Regions from separate parts of the Homo sapiens genome. Here region 2 is linked to region 1. The links come from fine-mapping of genetic effects on gene expression. Tissue or cell type: ileum. Region 1 holds a variant in brackets; the other region holds the start of a gene. All regions are shown on one strand. Distances are from middle to middle.

The links. PIP is the estimated chance that this variant, and not a neighbour inherited with it, causes the effect.
Region 2: EMILIN3 starts here. The variant in region 1 is fine-mapped to the expression of EMILIN3 in ileum (GTEx, PIP above 0.99). The same link has a PIP of 0.9 or more in esophagus muscle.

Annotation. Positions count from the first base shown.
Region 1 is chr20:41,389,231-41,397,405 of GRCh38, reverse strand. No RefSeq gene overlaps it. Among named protein-coding and RNA genes, the nearest start is that of EMILIN3, 26 kb to the right of the region's middle. RefSeq lists an enhancer at 5,068-5,733. The variant G/T (reference allele first, on the strand shown) is at 4,295.
Region 2 is chr20:41,362,543-41,370,717 of GRCh38, reverse strand. EMILIN3 (elastin microfibril interfacer 3) reads left to right here and starts at 3,900. Exons shown (of 4, transcript NM_052846.2): 1 at 3,900-4,250; 2 at 5,561-5,683; 3 at 6,857-7,080; 4 at 7,664-8,175. The coding sequence starts at 4,084. It also overlaps the pseudogene LOC124904985. RefSeq lists an enhancer at 4,662-5,163.

The DNA of each region.
Region 1 (8,175 bases):
ATTCCTTTGTGTATTGTCTATACAAAGCTGCTTTTGGGCTACGACAGCAGTGGTCACAGAGACCACACAGCCTGCAAAGTCGAAAATATTTATTATACTGTCTGATCCTTTGCAGAAAAAGTTTGTCGATCCCCATCCTGCAGCATCAATTTTATTCATAGATTCAATGCAAAAACTCATTTAAAATATTTCATATGGCCAGGCACAGTGGCTCATGCCTGTAATCCCAGCACTTTGGGAGGCCAAGGCGGGCGGATCATCTGAGGTGAGGAGTTCGAGACTAGCCTGGCCAACATGGCAAAAGCCCATCTCTACTAAAAATACAAAAATTAGCCAGGTGTGGTGGCAGGAGCCTGTCATCCCAGCTACTGGGAAGGCTGAAGCAGGAGAATTGCTTGAACCCAGGAGGCAGAGGTTGCAGTGAGCCGAGATGGAACCATTGCACTCCAGCCTGGGCAACAGAGTGAGACTCCATCTCAAAAAATACACACACACACATACATATATATATATATATATATATATTTCATATTAACTCCAACATGGTTTTGTATAAAAATGAATCACATAGTGGAATATAAGATTCATGTCTACTTTTGAGATAAAATGCTTCCAAGAAGCCCTTGGCTTTGGGCATGCTTCTTGAGGGCCAGCCTCCAAACCCGAGGGCATACTTTCACTTTGGAGGAAACACTGGAGTTGCCCTGTCCCCCTCCCCTCTTCACACTGAGTCTTTTTTGTTTGTCTGTTTTTGTTTTTGTTTTTTTGAGACAAAATCTCCCTCTGTCACCCAGGCTGGAGTGCAGTGGTGTGATCACAGCTCACTGTAGCCTCGAACTCCTGGGCTCAAGCGATCCTCCTGCCTCGAGAGTGACTGTCCTGTTCCCCACTGAGATGTCCAGCTGGCTCTCAGAAGCAGGACACTAGGAGAGGCTCAAGAGTCCAGGTCGATGCAGTGCTGTGGCCAGACTGAAGCAGCTTTGCCACGTCACCCTGGTCTCATCTACCATCAGGCCCCTGCTGGCTGTGTGTGCCTGTTCCCCCTCAGGATGACAACCTGGCCTCACCTTTCTCTGTCCCCAGCGCCTTGGGGCTCTTTGAAAATCCTCAGGGACTCCCAAAGCCTGCATAGGGCAGGAGAGCTGGGCCGAGGAAGGTCCACGCTGCACAGGGCAGGCAAGGACTCAGCACTGCTGGGTGTTTAGACTCTTTCCTGGCTCAGACCAAGAAAACTCTAAACTCTGTAGACACAGCTCCCAACCCCCACCCACTCCCCACTCCAGCTCTGACCCAGGCTTTTCCATTCACAGATCCCAGACTTTCCAGACCGGCAAAGAGCCCGGAGGCACAAGGCACCGTGAGTGCCTTGGGCAGGGGTTGGGGGCGGGGCGGTGGATTGTATGAGGCTGAGGAAAGCCCCAGCCGCAGCCCCTTGGGCCTCCCCAGGTAGAAGACACCCCTACCCTCACCCCAGTCCCTTGTCAAATTTCCCCGTCAAGAAGCAGCACATACGTATATAAGGATACTCCTAGTGTTGGTGTGCATCTGAGAGAGAGGGAAGGAGGGAGGGAGGGAGAGCTGGAGGGCGGTGGGGCAGGGGAGCAGGTGTTCCTCCTGGCTAAGCCCCTGCAGCTACTTCCTTTCTTCTCCCAGACAAGTTGAGGATAATTAGCATCCCATGAGGGAAGAAAGAGGCAGCTCCCATCCCTAGACTGAGCGTGGGAGAATTCAGAGCCCCCACCAACTCCACTCCCAGTGCGCAACCCAGCATCCCCAAAACAGGCCCAAGGACAAGGAGTCCACCACCCCCACCCTGTGGGCCCAACCACTCCCAGCCTCTGTAAGGAACAAGAGTTCAAAGAAATAAAACCTCCATCCAAAGAGGTACTTGCTCTGCACAGTCAACCGGGGGGGCACAATGTTCTTGAAACCCTGACCTTTCTTTGGAGTTACTGGTTGTTTCTTGTGTTCTCTGGCTCCTTTTCAAGCTGGGCTGGTCCATGAGTGTCTCTCAGGGACAAGGTACGACAATCGGAAGCAGACAAAAAAAGATTCTCTGCTTGGCTTTTGAGTTTCGGTGCCTGGCCTGGGCACATGCCAGATAAGAGCAAAGCTTCCCAGCTACCATCCCTCCCGCCTGGAAAAAGGTTTCTGAAGGGAAGAGGAAAGGGGTGGTTGGCAGCGGTCAGTGGGGATGGACTGAAGGAACCAGCCTCTTTGAGGGTGTCTCGTCTGTTTCCAGCACCCAGGAGCCCCCTGGAGCCATGTCTGAACCCAGGCTTCTGGGATCCTCTTCCTCAGTTGCCCCACCAGCCTGCCCCTCCCACACGGCTGTGGCATCTCCAGCAGCAGCCCCTGTGTCTCCTGTGACAGACCAGTGAGGGGGGTGCCACCTGTGCCCTGAGCATCCACTTGAGATAGGGTCTTACCCATTGGACTGCCCTCCCATCTTCACCCTAGGGCACCCTTAAGACCCAGTGGAGGCCAGGTACGGTGGCACACACCTGTGATTCCAACACTTTGGGAGGCCGAGTTGGGTGGATCGCTTGAGATTAGGAGTTCGGGACCAGCCTGGCCAACATGGTGAAACCCCGTCTCCACTAAAAATACAAAAATTAGCCAGGCATGGTGGTGCGTGCCTGTAATCCCAGCTACTCAGGAGGCTGAGGCAGGAGAATCACTTGAACGCGGGAGGCGGAGGTTCCAGTGAGCCAAGATTGCACCACTGCACTCCAGCCTGGGCAATAGAGTGAGACTCAGTCTCAAAGAAAAAAAAAAGACTGGGTTGAGCCCCAGTAGGGGAGATAGCAGTACAGAAAGCCCCTCTCTTGTGCCTCAGTGGGACTAGGAGAAACAGCTTGAGGTCCCCTGCACCCCAAGTAAGGCAAGTGCTGGGTAAACCAACCCTGTGCTCAAACACTGACTTTGTGATATGGACTCAGGAGGCCTTGAGCAAAAGGGCCAGCCAGGCTCAGAGCCTGCTACTCTGAAGTCTGGCAGTGGCACCCACCTCCCTGCAGAAGAGGCAGACCCAGGGTTATCCATGGCAGGGTCACCAGGGCCTGGGGCTGCAGGATGCTAGGAAGTGGCTCAGCTCCTGCCTGGTCTGGGGCATCACTCTGGGCCTCTCCCTCCAGTGTGCCCATGGGGAGTTGAGCTGCCTGAGCCCTGGGACCCCTCCGAGCTCTGCCACCCTGGACATGAGACCTTGAGATGCTGTGTCCCCATCTTTGGGGGTGAAGGGTCCATTGACCAAGTTCACCTTCAGGCTGCAGGGCCGTCTCTGGCTGAAGTTCAGCTGACTGATGCTCCCATTTAATCTTGGGGCTTGGAGCAGGGTTCCTGAGCCCCCCAGGCAGAGTTCCCACCTTCCTGTTAGGCTATTCCCCATGAGCCTTTTTATAAAGAGTTTGGCTGGGAGCCAGAGAGTTTTGGAAAGTGTATGGGCCAAGCCAAGCTGTACAAACCTGTCTTCCTCCCAGAGCTGAAAGAGGCCAGGTTGTTCCCAGACAAATGCAGAGGCGGGGCCGGGGGTTGGGAAGAAGAAAGGGGGCTATTTTAGGAGGACTTGCATACTGCAGAGCCCCCACACAGCAGCAGAGGGTGTGGGGAGGCACAGCCAGAGGCAGCAGAGTTAGGGACCTGGTACCAGGTGTCTCATGTAGACACACACATGAAACATATGCATACACCCCCAAACGCATGTGGGCACAGACACAAGTTACACAGATACGTAGGCTTGCGACTGTGTATAAGCATGTGCTGATGTGTACAGAAATATGCACAGGTACATACTAGGCAGTCGCACCTGCAGCTGCAGGGACATGCACAAACATGCTCATACATACAATCACACACCACCACGTACACACACATGCATAGACACTTAGAGATGTACACAAAGGATGCAGATTGAGCAATGCCAGGCTAAACCCAGGAGGCTGGGAGAGGGCTTGCACTCCCTGACAGCCCAACTCCCTGAAACCCAGCACACACGTGCGTGCACACACACACACACACACACACACACACCCTGGGAGGAAACTGCTTCCTCCATAGGAACTTTTGGATCCAGGGCAACATGCAATCAAGACCTTGTACTAGGAAAGAAAGCGCCTTTGTCTGCTGGGACCAGGGCTGCAGGAGCAGCTGCAGCCTCCTCCAGGATAAGAGCCAGGCCAGTTCCTTGCCCTGGGGAGGAAGGTCAGGCCAGGCCCTAGATGGGGGGTGGAAAGAGGGAGCTGGGGGCTCCAGCAGGCCCTGCCACCAATCCCAGGACACTGTGTCTGGCTGG[G/T]GGCACAAAGCCCGGAAAGCCTGTTGTTCTCAGGCCTGGCCTCCCTGACCTCTAACCCTAGTTTGGCCCTGTCTCCAGAACGACTGTGGTTCTGATCCCAGCCCTGGGGCTACACTGACCCAGACTGAGACCTGGCTCGCCTGGGGCTCCATGCCTGCCATGTGCCTGTGACGTCACTTTTTTTAGCGGAGTGAAAAAAAGTCAGGCTCTGGAATTAGAAAGATGTGAAATTGAATCCTGATTTTGTCACTCTCTGAGTGATTTTGAGAATGTACTTGACTTTTTGAGCCCTAAATTCAAACTCCTGTTATACAGAGGCAAATCTTTTTATTTATTTATTTATTTAGAGACAGGGTTTCATTTCTCATTCCATCACCCAGGCTGGAGTGCTTGCCGTAACCAACCTTGAACTCCTGGGCTCAACTGATCCCCTCACCTGAGCCTCCCAAGTAACTAGAACTACAGGTGTGCACCACTCACCTGGCTAATTTTTTTTTAAATGTATCATAGAGATGGGGTCTTGCTGTGTTGCCCAGGTTGGTCTGGAATTCCTGGCCTCAAGCCATCCTCCCCACTTGGCCTCCCAAAGCACTGAGATTATAGGCATGACTCACCACGCCCAGCCCAAATCCTCTTTATTGAGCCCACTGCATACAGCTGCCTTCTCCCTGTGTGCATCTTCTCTTCTGGGCCTGGTGAAGCTGGGTTGGTCCTCTCAGCCCCCAGCACCCCTACCCAGCACCCTCTCCTGCTGCACTGGCCCCAGGGAGGAAAGCAAGACCCAGCCCAGATCTCTAGGGGCTGCCATCTTGGGAGCACCCCTCCTCCCTTGTGCCCTTTTCTCACCCTCTGTGGTCCCAGCCCTGTCCTTGAAGCTGCCCCGTGCCCCTTTGCACTCCTCATCACACTCTGAAGGCCAAAACTTCAGTGAGAACAGCCCTGTTTTTCTAACTCAGGAAAAGGATTTAGCCTTGGAGACCCTGCAGAGGTAACTTAAGCCCCATCCCCAGACACTTCCAGAACTAATTTTAGTCCTTCCATTCAACAGATATTTACCAAAGGCCTACTATGCTATTCTAGATGCTGGAGATTACACGGTGAGCAAATAGGCAAAACTTCCTGCCCTGGGGCTTACATTCAGGCTCCCCATGCCCCATGCTGCGTGGGAGCCTTTAGCCTCACACATTCTCCACATCTGCCCAAGGGCTGCAGTCACTGTGCAAGCGCAGACACACCTCCTCCTTCATGTTGCCACAAAACTTTGGAATGTCACTATCATCACCGTCGCAGCTCTTTCTCCCACTAAGCCGCTCCTGGCTGATGCTAGGAATCTCAAGCGCAGGAATGCGCCTGGTGTGAATGCACTTGAACTATTGAAAGCCATTGAGGCGCGCTCTCTCTCTCTGCCCCGCCACCTCCTGCCCTCATGTAAGATGTGCCTTGCTTCTCCTTGCCTTCCACCATGATTCTAAGGCCTGCTCAGTCATGCAGAACTATGAGTCAATTAAACCTCTTTTGTTTATAAATGTTTTAAAAATGGGCCGGGCGCGGTGGCTCACGCCTGTAATCCCAGCACTTTGGGAGGCTGAGGCGGGCGGATCACGAGGTCAGGAGATTGAGGCCATCCTGGCTAACACGGTAAAACCCCGTTTCTACTAAAAATACAAAAAATTAGCCGGGCGTGGTGGCGGGCGCCTGTAGTCCCAGCTACTCGGGAGGCTGAGGTAGGAGAATGGCGTGAACCCGGGAGGCGGAGCTTGCAGTGAGTCGAGATCGCGCCACTGCACTCCATCCAGCCTGAGCGACAGAGCGAGACTCTGTCTCAAAAATAAAAATAAAAAATAAATAAAATAAATAAATAAATAAATAAATAAATAAAAATGAAAGCCATTGTGGAGTCTGACAGCGGCTTTCAATAGTTCAAGTGCATTCACGTACCACTGTGCCTTAGCGTAGGTCTTCTGATCTTACAGTAACTTGGCATCTTTTAACTATGATGCAGTTATGATAAATTATTGCATCATAATTGAATTATACATAATTATTTCTCTTAATTGCATCATAGTTAAATAACTTGCCCTTATTTTAAATAAAAGCATGCTGTTTTAGGAAATAAATCAGTCATGCACAATGGCTCATGCCTATAATCCCAGCACTTTGGGAGGCTCAGGCAGGAGGACCTCTTGAGGCCAGGAGCTTGAGACCAGCCTTAATAACATAGCAAGGCCCCATCTCTACAAAAAATAAAAAATTAGCCGGGCACAATGGCACATACCTGTAGTCTCAGCTACTTAGGGGGCTGAGGTGATAAGATTGCTTGAGCCCGGGAGTTCAAGGCTGTAGTGAGCCATGATCATGCCACTGCACTCCAGTCTGAGTGACTGAGCAAGACCCTGTCTCAAAAAATATAAAAGAAATGGACTGAACCTGAAGCTCAACTAGTGTCAGTTCAGTTGCCCTGCTCTGTCACTCACAGTACGATGCATTTGTTCATGAAATATTAATTGAGCACTTGCTCTTTGCCGGACCTGGAGAAGGGGAAAGGGGTCCCTGGAGCTCCCTGTCTAGAGTGAGCCAGTGAGCAGAAAATGACAATGCTGTATAGTAAGTGCTGAATAGACTGATGGGCAGTTGCCATAGGAGCCCAAGGGGAGTTCCTTGGGGGCAGTGGGGGCAGATGGATTAAAGACAGTTTTGCAGAACAGGGGATATTTGAGCTGAGCCTTGAAGGAGCAGTTGGATTTTTTTTCAGGTAGAGATGAAAGAGAGTGAGCCAAGCAGAAGGACCAGCATTTGCAAAAGTCATGGAAACAGGGAAATGCCTGATGTGTGAGGAAGATGGCAAAATGTTAAATGTCCCAGGCAGGGAGGTCAGGCTGGCTGGGGAAGTGACTGGCACCAGATAAGACTGTGAATGCCAGGGAGAGTGGGGAACCCCTGCCACATGGAGGTCACCCAACCCTGGCCCTGGAGCTGTCCCCCTGAGCTGTCCACCCCCATCCTGAAAACTCCGTTCAGCCCCTCCCCTCCTACCTTCCTCCTGCCCTTAGAAACCCTGATTTCACTGTGGTCAAATTCCCCCCCATTCTTGGCTTAGGGAAAACAATTATGAGGCAGGAATTCTTGTAAGAGCTTTTTCTATATTAAAATGCTTGATCCTCTGTTAAATATTGTTTGTCTTTTTTTTCACAGTTTGACCTTATTTTATTATGTTTTGTTAGAAAGAAGCCTCCCATTATTATGTCATGAAATCTATCAGTCTGTTCATATGATGTCTTCTTAGGAAGTTGTCCCCTATCCTAAAATTGTGTAAGTATTCGGATTCTTTTATGGTTTACCTTCTAGCATTTAAATCTTTAAGCCATCTGCAGTATATTTAGATTTAAGGTAGAAATCTAACTTTTTTCCAAATTGTTAGCCAGTTGTCCAGTCCCACATCTTAAGTAATCCATCATTTCTGCCCTGTTTTTTTTTTTTTTTTCAAATTTTCAATTCCCCCCTCTCCTCGATTTTTAAAGTTATACATGCTATCCAGAAAAAAGAAGAGGAACGAGCAGGAGGGGGATGAGAAGTGTGGAAATGTATGGCTAAGGAAGTAAAAGCCCTCCCCTTTTACCTCCCTGAGGTAGAGGCAATAACTGTTCATCATTTGTTATAGATCCTATTATTATTCGTGTTATAACACTTACTAGGTTTCTCTTAAGTGCAGAAATATTCAAAAGAGAAAACCCAAAAGGGATCAAAACCTCTGGAACATATTTTGGCATAAAAACATGTTGGCTTCTCAGGTGAAGGAGGTTGCAGTGAACTGAGATCACGCCACTGCACTCCAGCCTGGGCAACAGAGTGAGACCCTGTCTCAAAAAAAAAAAAAAAAAAAA
Region 2 (8,175 bases), 27 kb after region 1:
GTGAGACTCCGTAAAAAAAAAAAAAGAAAAGAAAAAAAAGAAAAGAACAGAAAAGAAAGGCAGGATGCATAGGGCTCACCCCTGCAGTCCCAATACTTTGGGAGGCCAAAGCAGGAGGATCACTTGAGGCCAGGAGTCTGAGACTAGCCTAGGCAGCATAGTGAGACCCCATCTGTACGAAAGGAAAAACTCATGCACATGCATGATAGTGGTATGGGGGATGGGTTGGGTGTGGTTGTGCATGTCCCTGTGAACTGAAACTGCACTCCCACTCCCGTGTATGGCCCGTTTCCATCCAGGTGTAGAAACTCCAGTCTGAGTCAGAGGAACATGACTGCCTCCTTTCCTCCTCTGCTTCTGGCCTCCCTAGGTTTCCTGTCTGGCAGATGCAAAGTGGCCTCATCGTCTATGGGGGGACCCCCGCTCTGGCCTGATCCAGCCAAGACCCTGAGCATCTCCCTGTACTGAGGTCCTCCACCCCCACTAGAATGGGGCCCAGATCCTGGATCCCAAAACTGTTGCAGTGAAAGAGGGAGCATGGTGTTTGATGTCAGCCACCTGGGAAAGGGGGAAGTGGGGTCCAGCTATCCTTTTAGCCCCTATGACGTGGATATTTCCAAGCTCAAACAGGGTCCAGCCTCTTCCTTGTGAGTTTTGGGCCCCACATCTGGGGCTGGGGAAGGGAGTGAGAGGAAGGGGTGGGACCACTTGGAAAAAGATCACAGCCTCTGGGGTGGGGGAGTTCCTCCCAGAGCCAGGCTGGGCAATGCTGCCAGGCAGTCAGCACCCAGCCTAGGATGAGGAGCTGGCTCAGATGTTTCTCACTTCCTAAAAAGCGCAAAGTCAGTGGTTACAAGATCAAGAGCTTGTTGGGGATATGGTGTATCTTGCCCTCAGCAAAATGGTTCATAACATCTCTCTTAGAGGTTGGAGCATATAATAGCACATTCGGTGCTTTTATAGGGAGAGTGAAAGGCTGTCTTAGGGACCATGTGGTTGCTGTAAGACTATACTTTCAGGGATCATTTCTACAGTTCATGACTAGAGAAGTTTCTCTCTGTAGAGCACATTTGGTTGCTGGGATCAGAAACCCATTCAAGCTAGCTCCAATGGTGGACTACTGGAAGCAGATAGGGAAGTCACAGCTTGTCCCCAGATGGTTACTCACCACATAGCCCCTGACTCTGCCCCTCTCTCCCCTGACCACACTCTTTCTCCCTTTCCCATGATTCCCCCAGAGCTCTCGTGGTCTCTCCTATCATTACCAGCCAAGTGCCCCTGTAGTGGATTGAATTGTGCCCCTCCCAAAATTCATGAACATTTGGAACCTCAGAATGTGACCTTATTTGGAAATAGGGTCTTTGTAGACGTAATCATTTGAGATGAGGTTATGTTGGGCTGTACATCCAATGACTGGTGTCCTTATAAGAAGAGGAGGCTGGGCTGGGTGCAGTGGCTCACGCCTAGAATCCTAGCAATTTGGGAGACTGAGGTGAGAGCATCACTTGAGCTCAGGAGTTTGTGACCAGCTTGGGCAACAAAGTGAGAGCCCATCTCTACAGAAATTTTAAAAATGAGCTGTGCATGGTGGTGCACAACTGTGGTCCCAGCTACAGAGGAGGTGGGGGCAGGAGGATCACTTGAGCTCAGGAGGTCGACGCTGCATTCCAGCCTGGGTGATGGAGCTAGACCTTGTCTCTATTTATTTATTTATTTATGGAGATGGAGTTTCGCTCTTGTCACCCAGGCTGGAGTGCAATGGCATGATCTCGGCTCATTGCAACCTCCACCTCCAGGGTTCAAGTGATTCTCTTGCCTCAGCCTCCCAGGTAGCTGGGATTACAGGCGCCCGCCACCACGCCCGGCTAATTTTTTTATTTTTAGTAGAGATGGGGTTTCACCATATTGGCCAGGCTGGTCTCAAACTCCTGACCTCAGGTGATCCCCCCACCTCGGCCTCCCAAAGTGCTGGGATTACAGGCATGAGCCATCGCGCCCAGCCCTGTCTCAAATTTAAAAACACAACCAGAAAGGCAGGGCGCGGTGGCTCACGCCTGTAATCCTAGCACTTTGGGAGGCCGAGGCGGACGGATCACGAGATCAGGAGATCGAGACCATCCTGGCTAACACGGTGAAACCACGTCTCTACTAAAAAAAAAAAAAAAATACAAAAAAATTAGCTGGGCATTATGGCGGGCGCCTGTAGTCCCAGCCACTCGGGAGGCTGAGGCAGGAGAATGGCGTGAACCCGGGAGGCAGAGCTTGCAGTGAGCCGAGATCGCGCCACTGCACTCCAGCCTGGGCGACAGAGCGAGACTCTGGCTCAAAAAACAAAAACAGAAAGAAGAGGAAAGGACACAGATCACAGTCACAGAGAAAAAAAGGTCACCTGAAGAGGGATATGCGGAGGGAAAGTAGAGGCTGGAGTGATGCTGCTACAAAGAATCCTTGACCAAAGAACGCCAGAGATTGCCAGGAACCACCAGTGGCTGGAAGAGGCAAGGAAGGCTTCTCCCCAGAGCCACTGGAGGGGGCATTGCCCTGCTGGCCCATGGATTTTGGAGTTAGCCTCCAGAAATGTGCAAGAATACATTTCTGTGTGTTAAGCCACTGAGTCTGTGGCTGTTACCACAGCCCTGAGAAACTCACACAACCTACACCTGGAAGCTGGATTCCTTCAGCTTCTGTGTTCTGATTCCAAAGCCTGGGGGAAAGCAGGATGGGCCTAGCTGGGGTCAGATGTCCGCCCCACAGAACCCAAAAGCCACTAAAGCTAAGGGCAGGAAATAGATGTGGGTTTCGGAGCTGCCCCTTCCAGTATCCTTGATAACCATCACCCTATCCAAAAGGCATTAATTCATATCTCAAGGTCAATTTGGAGGGAGGTCTCTCCAAGCAAGCCCCAGAGTTCTGTACACCTATCAGCTCCTGGGGCAAAGACACAGACGGCTGTAGCCACCGGTGTGGATGAGACAAGGCCAGGAAAGTACCGCTCTGATGACAGAATCAGAAGGACTCTGTGCAGGTTAGAGAGTTAGCAAGGTGATACTGAATGAGGACGACGATAAAACCCAACTCTTGGGTTCCAAGAGTCAACTTCACAAGCAAAATGTGGACGACGCCTGGCTTCACCGCGGCAGTGCCTTGTGAGAAAGACCTGAGGATTTTCTCTGACCAGCCGGCTTAGAGCTTCAGTTGCACGAAAAGCACAGCACTTTTGGCTGGGCTGGGGCGGTGATAGGCCTTTCGGGCTCGGTGCAACCCATACCTAAGACAGAGAGGCAACACAGGCGCCTCCAGAGAACCAGAGGTGCAACCGGGCCACCAGGCTACGTGGCAGAGGTTGCGGGGTAAGGGGGAGGTGGGATGCCTGGGGAGAGGTCAGCGGAGTTATCAAACTAAGGTTCCCGGGCAATGATGGGGCCAGGAGGCAGAGCGAGCAAACGGGGATGATCTGGGGTCTATTCCAAAGAGGTGGCGGGGGAGGTGGTGCTGCTGTGCCCCCAGTCACGGCCATCTCGGCTCCAGAGCCCTGGAGAGCAGTTCCCGGGTTCACACGGACTCTGAAGACAAGCGTATCCTGAGGGTGGACGACTCCTGGAAAGTCCACGCCCAGGCTGGCCTCAGGGGTCCGCTTCTCTGCGTCTCGCCCCGTGCCCGCAGGCGACAGAGTGGCTGGTGTGCTCGGGGGGCCTCCCAGGGCGCGGCGGCCTGCGCCCCTGCCACCTGGGGCTGCTCCCTTTGGAACCTCCTGTTCGCAGGCGGCTCCTCGGCCGTCCGCTCGGAGCTGGGGCGAGGGGCTGGCGGCGGCGAGCGGCGCGGCCCCAAGTTTATGCTAATCCGCAAAGAGCCCGCCTCCCGCCTCCCCTCCGCGGCCCCAGCCGCTAGCAGCGCCGGCCACTCCGCGGGACGCAGCCGCCGCGAAGCGCCAGGCGGCCGGGCCAGCGAGCTCGGGGGCCGAAGGGGACCCCGGGACCCTCGGGGCGGGACCCGGGCCGACCAGCGGCGGGGGCGGCGCGGCGCTGCAGGCGGACACCCGGCGGGGGGCACCGCGCGGGGCCGGGCAGAGGCGCGGGGGCCGCTATGGGCCGCCGCCGCCTGCTCGTCTGGCTGTGCGCCGTCGCGGCGCTGCTCTCGGGGGCGCAGGCCAGGGGCACCCCGCTCCTGGCGCGGCCTGCGCCGCCCGGTGCCTCCCGCTACAGTCTCTACACGACGGGATGGCGCCCGCGGCTGCGCCCGGGGCCGCACAAGTAAGCGCGGGCGGGCGGCGGGCGGGAAGAGGGAGGGATGGGCCCGCGCGCGTCGCCGCTCCCACCTGCCCGCACCCGCGGGGGGCGTCGAGGCCCCGGGCACCCCGAGGCCGCTGCACAGAGGGGGCGGCGCCCGGGGCCGAGCCCCTGCCCAGGCGAGCGCCCTACGCTCCGGGAGGTTGCGGGGCTGGCGAGGAAAAAGGAACCGAGGGGGCCTGGCGCGGCGGCTTGGGATCCTGGCAGTGCCAGCGGAAACCTTTCCAGCGAAGTAACATTTTCCAGCTGCGCTGTGTGCAGACTCCGGGCGAGCGGACCAGGTGGAGGGAGAGGAGGAAAGGCGGTCCGCGCGCTGAGCACGCGGGGCTCCCCCGCCCCGGGCCTCCCTTCTCTCCCCTGGCCCGGCCAGGTAGGAGATAGAGCTGCGCATCCGGGCGGCCGCTGCCCTCTCGCAGTCAGCCTGGCCCCAGCAACCCCATGGGAGCCCCAGCGTGGCCGGGCTGCAGAGCCAGAGCGGGCTCCTGGCTCCGGGCCTGTGCTGTGGCACAGCCGTCCACAGCGGTCGGCTTATGCCAGGCAGCCACCTCCTCAGCCCTTGTGGCTCATCAAGGAGCCTGCTTTCCCCGCCTCAGCTTCTGGTGTTTCGTGGGCAGTGGCTTGCGAACTGGCCTCAGTTAAGTGGGCTGGAGGCTCTGCCTGGGGTGCTGGCTGAACTTGAATTCTAGCTGAATTTGAGAGCTGTTGTAGGAGGAAGAGTACCGACACTCAGTGGGCCTGGGTACATCACAGCGAGCCTCCTGGAGGAGGTGGTACAAGAACTGCTCTGAGAGTAAGGGAACAGGACCAAAGGCAGGGGCTGCAAAACTACGAGGAGAGGTGGATTTCCCCGGGAGCCAGGCAGGGAGGAAGGACAAGACATGGTGCTCTCAAAGGAGTCACTGAGTGGGGACTCGGAAGCCTTAAATGCCAAGATAAGGAGTTTGGAATCAGCGAAGGATGGGGGGGTGTGGCAGGGCACTTGAGGGAGAATCCGGGCTGGCCTCTTCCCCACGCAGGGAGGGGCAGCCACATCAGGCTCCTGGTTCCAAATAGTGCTTAGCCCAGGGGCCACCCATCACGGAGGCTGGAATCAGAGACCAGCAGCGGGGCTGGACCCCAGACCAAGGGCGTTGGCTCCCAGGGACACAGAGAACAGACAGAAGAGACATGGGAGTTTGGAGTCCTGCTGAGGCCCACAGATGGAGGTGGGAGGGTAGGCGCCTCTGTGGGCCTCGCTCAGCCAGATATTCCAGGGGTGCCATTTTCTCCTGTAGGGCCCTCTGTGCCTATGTGGTGCACAGGAATGTGACCTGCATCCTACAGGAGGGAGCGGAGAGCTACGTAAAGGCTGAATACCGGCAGTGTAGATGGGGGCCCAAGTGCCCCGGGACAGTCACGTAAGTGCACTCCTCACCTACACACTTGGAATCCCCTGGCACAAGCGCCAGTCCTGCCTTCAGCTGAGAGCAGCTGCCAACTCCACAAGGGGCTTCTTGGACTCCAGAGAGCCCACCTGAGCCCCCATACAGGCCAGAGTAGAAGGCGGCCCCAGAAAAGAGGGTGCCAAGGAGGACCCCAGGGATTTGGGCTTGCAGCAGAGCATCACCCGCACAGACAGGGGCAGGCTTGGGTTGGAGCCCAGGAACCACAGAGGGACAAGGGGAAGGTTCTGGGGGCAGAGGCAGCACAAGGCTAGGAGGAAGTGACAGAGGCAGAAGGTGAGGGGAGAGGAGGGAGCAGAGGGCCCCTTAGGCAACGGGTGATGCCACAGGGGGGCCTGGCAGGCCCAGGGAGGACTGTGGTGACCACAAGGAGGCAGGCCATGGGGCAGGGAGAGGAAGCCGGAGCAGCAGGGCTGCACGCACATGGGATGCACAGCTCTGTACCTGGAGAGGTTCACGTGTGTGTGTGGAAACAAACCTGTTGTCTCCGGTGTGTCAGTGGGTGAACAGGTACGTGGCTGAACAGTGAGGGCATGGACCCTCGCGAGCCTGCCTGTACCCTGGACCTTCCCTTCCCTGCTCACAATCAGAGGTACCCGTCCATCTGCCTCTCTGACCAGAGCCGAGGTCCCGGAGCAGGCTAGAGAGGAGTGGAAAGAACTAAGGGGAGCAGGTAGGAGCCAAGAGTGGCCCCCAGGGCAGTGAGGGGGCTGCCAGCGCCAGCTCCAGGGCAGTGCCCCTCCCTGCCCACAGGGAGGGCTGGGGCTGTGTCTGATTCTCCCAGGTGCTACTGCAGCCTGAGTGGAATTTCTCATGGCAGCCTGAGCTAGAGGGGGTCCAAGTGGTCTTGGGAGGGATGGGGCAAAATTCCTGCTTCTCTCCAAGCTACCAGGATGGGTGGGACTTCTACCTGCATCCTTCCCTAACATGACTGTGAGCTTCAGGAAGGCCTGCCCTTACCCACCCCTGTCACCTTAAGCACAGAAAAAGTACAGCCCTGGGGGTGCTATGGAGGTGGGGAGATACCCAGCCTTATGCAAGTGTCTGAGGGCGGCCCTGAGTGCCAGCTAGGGGGAGAAGCACAGCCCTCAGGTGCAGGATCCCACTCTCTTGCCCTCCCTGGCCCAGGTACCGCACAGTACTCAGACCCAAATACAAGGTTGGCTACAAGACAGTGACAGACCTCGCCTGGCGTTGCTGTCCCGGCTTCACTGGGAAACGCTGCCCTGAGCACCTCACGGACCATGGGGCTGCCTCACCCCAGCTGGAGCCTGAGCCTCAGATTCCTTCAGGGCAGCTGGACCCAGGCCCCAGGCCCCCTTCCTACAGCAGAGCAGCCCCCAGCCCTCATGGTGAGTCTGCCCAAGGAGACCCTCCAAGGTGATTGGGTTTCTTGGGCTCAGTGGCAGGGGCAGGGAGGGGACTGATCCCAGGCTGGCTGAGCTCCGGCATGGATGGGGAGGGGCAAGCCCCAAGCCCCACTTTCACCCCACCATAAAGCTGAGGGAGTTATGCCCAGTGAGAAGGTAGGCTTAGAACAGAAAGTCTGGGCTGGGCGCGGTGGCTCATGCCTGTAATCCCAGCACTTTGGGAGGCCGAGGCGGGTGGATCACGAGGTTAGGAGATCGAGACCATCCTGGCTAACATCGTGAAACCCCATCTCTACTAAAGATAGAAAAAAAATAGCCGGGCGTGGTGGTGGGTGCCTGTAGTCCCAGCTGCTTGGGAGGCTGAGGCAGGAGAATGGCATGAACCCGGAAGGCGGAGCTTGCAGTGAGCCAAGAGCACACCACTGCACTCCAGCCTGGGCGACTGAGCAAGACTCTGTCTCAAAAAAAAAAAAAAAGAACAGAAAGTCTCTTGGGTGGCCTGGCATTGTGACAAGCTGAGAGGGTGAGGCCAGTGATGCCCCTGGGGCTCTCTTCTCTTTCCCAGGAAGGAAAGGCCCAGGGCTGTTTGGTGAGCGGCTGGAACGCCTGGAGGGTGATGTCCAGCGCCTGGCTCAAACATATGGTACCCTCAGTGGCCTGGTGGCTAGCCACGAGGATCCCAACAGGATGACTGGTGGCCCCAGGGCTCCTGCTGTCCCTGTGGGCTTTGGGGTCATCCCTGAGGGGCTTGTGGGCCCAGGAGACAGAGCCAGAGGGCCACTAACACCTCCCTTAGACGAGATCCTAAGCAAGGTGACAGAGGTGAGCAACACTCTTCAGACCAAGGTGCAGCTTCTAGACAAGGTGCATGGGCTGGCACTTGGCCATGAGGCCCACCTGCAGCGGCTGCGGGAAGCCCCACCATCCCCGCTCACCTCCCTGGCCCTGCTGGAGGAGTACGTGGACCGACGGCTGCACCGACTCTGGGGGAGCCTGCTGGATGGCTTTGAGCAGAAGCTGCAAGGCGTCCAGAGTGAGTGTGACCTGCGGGTGCAGGAGGTACGGCGGCAATGTGAG